2 separate regions of the Homo sapiens genome follow, and region 1 is linked to region 2. Evidence: fine-mapped expression QTL. Tissue or cell type: monocytes. Region 2 holds a variant in brackets; the other region holds the start of a gene. All regions are shown on one strand. Distances are from middle to middle.

Evidence for each region.
Region 1: SQOR starts here. The variant in region 2 is fine-mapped to the expression of SQOR in monocytes (Quach 2016, PIP 0.95). The same link has a PIP of 0.9 or more in monocytes after Pam3CSK4.

What each region holds. Positions count from the first base shown.
Region 1 is chr15:45,633,975-45,636,698 of GRCh38, reverse strand. SQOR (sulfide quinone oxidoreductase) reads right to left here and starts at 1,670. Exons shown (of 10, transcript NM_021199.4): 1 at 1,591-1,670. RefSeq lists enhancers at 899-948, 979-1,068, 1,531-2,526 and a silencer at 1,549-1,718.
Region 2 is chr15:45,654,666-45,657,689 of GRCh38, reverse strand. The region is part of intron 1 of SQOR (sulfide quinone oxidoreductase); the gene reads right to left. Among named protein-coding and RNA genes, the nearest start is that of SQOR, 21 kb to the right of the region's middle. The variant GA/A (reference allele first, on the strand shown) is at 1,690.

The DNA of each region.
Region 1 (2,724 bases), 21 kb after region 2:
CGTGCGCAGTGGCTCATGCCTGTAATCCCAGAACTTTGGGAGTCCAAGGTGGGCGTATCACAAGGTCAAGAGATCGAGACCATCCTGGACAATATGGTGAAATCCTGTCTCTACTAAAAATACAAAAATTAGCTGGGTGTGGTGGCACACACCTGTAGTCCCATCTACTCGGGAGGCTGAGGCAGGAGAATCACTTGAACCCAGCAGGCGGAGGTTGCATTGAACCGAGATCGCGCCACTGCACTCCAGCCTGGTGACAGAGTGAGACTCCGTCTCAAAAAAAAAAAAAAAAGAAGAAAGAAATTACAGATATTTTCTTATATTACAAGTATTACCTATATCTTGAAATAATTGTTTATGTTCTTTACTACTTCAAAATTATGGTAACTATTTAATCCACTGCTAGATCTTGTTATTTAATAACCTTGTTATTAAATAACGCATTCGTTTTTTAAAGACATATATATTACCATATCATAAATTCTTTTAATGTTTTGACATGTGTTTTGCAATTGGTTTCCTTTATAATACTCTTCCTTTTGTTTTATACCTTTAAAAAAGCATTGTTCTGGTCCAGCGCGGTGGCTCACTCGTGTAATCCCAGCACTTTGGAAGGCCGAAGTGTGCGGATCATTTGAGGCCAGGAGTTCGAGACCAGCTGGGCAACATGGTGAAACCCGCCTCTACTACAAATACTAAAATTAGCCAGGTGTGCTGCGCCTGTAATCCCAGTTACTCGGCAGGCTGAGGCAGGAGAATCGCTTGAACCCGGGAGGTGGAGGTGGCAGTGAGCCGAGATCGCGCCACTGCACTCCAGCTTGGGCGACAGAGCAAGACTCTGTCTCAAAAAAAAGTATTGTTCTGAGAGTCTTTAGCCTTCCCAGAAATGCCAAAGGGGTGCACAGCACAAAAATGGAACAGAGCCCTGCATTATAGCAATGGGCAGCGCAGGCAAAGCCAGGGGCTCTGTTCAGCGTCTTTGAGCAAAAAGCCAGGTTGGAATTTTGATAAATAAAAGAGACAGATGAAGAGGAAAGGAAATGAGCCCAGATTCCACCAGAAGACCCCTTCTCCCTTTCCACCAATTCCTGTTCAGCAGGTGCCCTAAATCCTCTCCCCTTCAGGTTTCAGCTGCAGCCGACCCCTCGAGCGCCCCCTCTGTCCCACGCGCAGTGTCGGTGGATGACTGTGTCAATCCCTGGCCCCCGGACGCCGAGCACCCACTCCCGCTCCAGGACGGTGCCGAGTGACAGTCAACAGGTGGAAGGCGCCAGAAACGTCCACACACCAAGACCACGGATACTTCGGTTTTTAAGCACCCCTCGCGGGTTGGCCTCTCCGCGGCCCTGAGGCTCTGACACTCTGAGAAGGAAGCAAGAGTCCCAAGACCCGGGTTCCAGACAAGGGCAGCAAGAGCTGCAGGTGTCCGGAGTTGAGGAAGCAAAGTTTGGGGCGCGGCGCACCGGGTCTGCGGAGTCCCAGCTGCGGAAACCGAGTTAAGCTAACAAACAGCCTCAGTGGTGGTCGCTGTCCCCGCCCAGTCTCCCTCCGCTGGCCCAGGGCCAAAGATCGGCCGCGGATGCCTCTTACCCGGGCGTGAGCGGAGCCTTCGGTCACTGCGTTGGCGCAGCAAAAACCTTCGCTCCCTTCTGGGTCTCAAGGCCTGGACTGGGGCCCCGCCCGCCTGCCATCCGGGCGGAGGCTGGAGGCGGGGAAAGCGAGGCTCCCCCCAGGAAAGGTCCCGAAAAGTCCCGCCGTGCCCCGCCCGGCGCCGCAGCCCAGGCACCATGGTCAGTGAACACACCAGGGCGTTGAGCGCTCACGGGGCACAGAACCAGGAACAAGCGTCCATCCGGCCTGGGGTGCTGCCGGCTGGACAGACTCGCCCCTTGCGCGCCCTGAAGGGCGGCCCCGCAGGCTGGGGCGCACAGGCGGAGGACACCGAGGCCACCTGACGCTTCCGCCCCTGGGTGCCAACAGCGTTTTGTAATCAGGGCAGGCAAAAGCGGAGGCGGGGCGCTGTGCAGAGAGGCTCTGGCTGTTCCCACTGGGTCCTCCTATGTGCCCTGGGCTTCTCACCGGGTTCACACAGCTGCCCAGAAACACAGGTATTCCCGCGCTCATTTCACAGAGAAGGTGACCGAGGTTCAGCTTTGGTGTGCGCTGGAGCCCTTCCTTCAAAACGCGCAGGCAGGGGTAAGCTGGCTTCCAGCCACTGGCCTCCACAGTGTCCCATCCCATATTCATGACTGGACATTTTCAGTTGGCGGCTCTTTCCAGGTTGATGTAAAGTCTCAGTGAGTGGTTCTCCACCATATCAGATTCAGTAACCCTTTTTACAATAAATACAGGGTGTCCCAAAAGTCTCATAACCTGAGAAGTGCAAGTGCTAGAAGCTTTCAAAAAAACAAACAAAAATAAACCCTTGAAAGTTTGAGTTTCTTTTACACTTATTTGGTTTTATGAATTTTGAATATATATATATATATATATATATATAGTTGTTGTTGTTGTTTTTTGAAACAGAGTCTCACTGTGTTGCCCAGGCTGGAGCGCAGTGAGTAGAGCAATCTCGGCTCACTGCAACATCTGCCTCATGGGTTCAACCAATTCTGGTGTCTCAGCCTCCTGAGTAGCTGGGACTACAGGTGTGTGCCACCATGCCCGGCTAATTTTTGTATGTTTCAGTAGAGATGAGGTTTCACCATGTTGGCCAAGCTGGTC
Region 2 (3,024 bases):
AGCTACAAAAAGAAAGAAAGGCCTTGGAGAGGGGGAAAAATAATAGGGAATGGGAAAGAGGAGCTGAGGGGCTGTTAAGATTAACTTAATTCCAGAGTTTTGGTGCCCCGACAACTTCTTCAATATTTCAGATCTGAGAAGCAACCTAGAGCTGTAGGAAGGGGATTTGGAGGCCCACGGTAAGTAGGACAGGCTCATACAGTGTTTCCAGGAGTCTAGAGTCAATAAAACCCTTCTGGAAACTTACCCTTTGACCCTGCATTTCCATTTCTAGGAATCTAATCTAAGGAAATAACCTCTAATACTGAAGAAGAAAAACCACTACAAAGATGTTTTTCACAAATGTATTCATAATCTGGTCACCCCTCTACTAATTGGTTTGTGGATTAGGGCTAATTATGTCCTGGGGACAGAAAAAAAAAAATGCAGGCTCCACACGGGCCAGGGAAGGCTCAGGTCACCACTTTAATATGGGGGCAGAGAGCAATGCAAATATCAAAACACTGGGGAAAGGTTAACTAAAATATGGAACACAAGATGATTTCTGAAGTCTTTTAAAATTATGTTCATAAACAATATATAGACCAGGCGTGGTGGTTCACACCGGTAATCCCAGCACTTTGGGAGGCCAAGACAGGTGGATCACCTGAGGTCAGCAGTTCAAGACCACCCTGGCCAACATGGTGAAACCCTGTCTCTACTAAAAATACAAAAATTTTTAGCCAGGCGTGGTGGTGTGTGCCTGTAATCCCAGCTACTAGGGAGGCTGAGCCATGAGAATTGCTTGAACCCAGGAGGCAGAGGTTGCAGTAAGCTGAGATCATGCCACTGCACTCCAACCTGGGTGACAGAGTGAGACTCTGTCTGAAAAAAACAATAAAATAAAATAAATAAAAAATGTTTACATCATGATCAGGATACAAATTAGAAATGCAATATTCTCTCAACTATGTAAGAGGAAATATATTAGAAAAAACAAAGCCAAAATTTTAACACTGGCAAGTGGTTTTCTCTGGGTTTTAGAATAATGAGTGATTTTGATTTCTTCTGCTTTTATGTATTTTATAAAAGTCTCTACTATACACATACATTAATATTGGCTGGGCATGGTGGCTCACACCTGTAATCCCAGCACTTTAGGAGGCTGAGAGAGAGGGATCACCTGAGCCCAGGAGTTTGAGACTAGCATGGAAAACATGGGGAAACCCCAACTCTATTTAAAAAAAAAAAAAATTAGCCAGGCATGGTGGTGCACCCAGCTACTACCAAGGCTGAAGTGGAAGGATCACTCAAGCCCGGGAGGTGAAGGCCACAGTGATCTGTGATTTCACCACTGTACTCCAGCCTGGGAAGAGAGGGAGACCCTGTCTCAAAATAAATAAATAAAATTAATATTAATAAAATCTTCCTTTAGATGATAATTAACATTTACAAAGTCCTTTACATAAGCATTTAACTTGTGAGTTGGCTACCACCATCATTCCCATTTAACAGATGGTAAAACTAAGGCAGATAGCAGTTAAGTGACTCTCAAAGTTATATAGCCCATGGGTGGACTGTGATTTGTACCCAGGTATTTTGGTGTGAGAGCCTCTACTTTAAACCACTACACCATACTATCTCTATGATCTTTAGAACAATATGTCTCAACAGCAACAAAACAATGCTTGTGTGATAATGTTAAACGGG[GA/A]AAAAAAAAAAAATAGGCCAGGCACGGTGGCTCACGCCTGTAATCCTAGCACTTTGGGAGGCCAAGGCGGGCGGATCACAAGGTCAGGAGATCGAGACCATCCTGGCCAACATGGTGAAATCCCGTCTCTACTAAAATACAAAAAAAAATTAGCTGGGCATGGTGGTGTACACCTGTAGTCCCAGCTACTGGGGAGGCTGAGGCAGGGGAATCACTTGAACCCGTGAGGCGAAGGTTGCAGTAAGCCAAGATTGCGCCACTGCACTCCAGCCTGGGCAACAGAGTGAGACTCTGTCTCAAAAAGAAAAAAAAAAAAAAGATATACTTTCTACAACTTCCCAGAAAAGGGAAACCATTTTTCATGATACTGATACCTAAATATTAGCAATGGTTTTAATGATTATAATTATTTTCCCTCTTCTTTGTATGTACTTTTCACAAATTTTCTTTAATACACTGTACATTTTAAATTTTAAAAATTACTCAAATAGATTTTTTTTAGATTGAAGAGAAGAAGAAATCACCAAGTAAGATATTGATGTTTCATACGGAAGGAAGAAGATATTTTATGGTGTGTACCCAGTCATCACATCCTGCTTTTCTTTCTAAATGTCCACAGAATGATAGAATCACAGCAAAACTTCTCACTTTCCAGAAAAGAAAAATCATGTTTTTCATGGTCCTGACACTATATCTATCTCCATGGGAAAAGCCCCATAGGAAGCGCCCCATGGGGCAGGGGCAGGAGGAGCAATCTAGGAGGAGGCCTGGCTAAGTTTCTGGTTTCCAGCCACCCTGTCTGAGGTTATTTGGCCTCCAAGTGATACAAGAGTTAAGAAAAATTTACTTAGGCAGATAGTGAGGGTATGGAAGTCCTCGGTAAGGTTTTCCTTTTAATGAAAAGCAGCCCCAAATCATTTTCCTGTCTAACAAAAGCAGCCTGTAAAATCGAGCTGCAGACATAGATGCTGGCAATCATGTTCAAGATGGCGGCTCCATTTTCCCTTTGCTTTGTCAGCCATGTGTACAGTAAGGAGCAGACAAGATGGCCCCAACTAAGGGGAAAGTTCATTTGCATAATAAGATGAGGGTGGGGAGGCCAGCCTTCCTGATGCACTATGTAAACATCATACCTGATCAAACCAATCTGTGAGCCCTATGTAAATCAGACACCGCCTCCACCAACCTGACTATAAAATCTGACATATCCACCACCGGCCACGTCTTTCCACTCAGAAGACCCCTCTCTCTCAATAGAGAGAGTTGTTTTTCTTTCTCTTTTCTCCTGTCTATTAAACCTCCACTCCGAAACTCCTTGTGTGTGTCCATGTCCT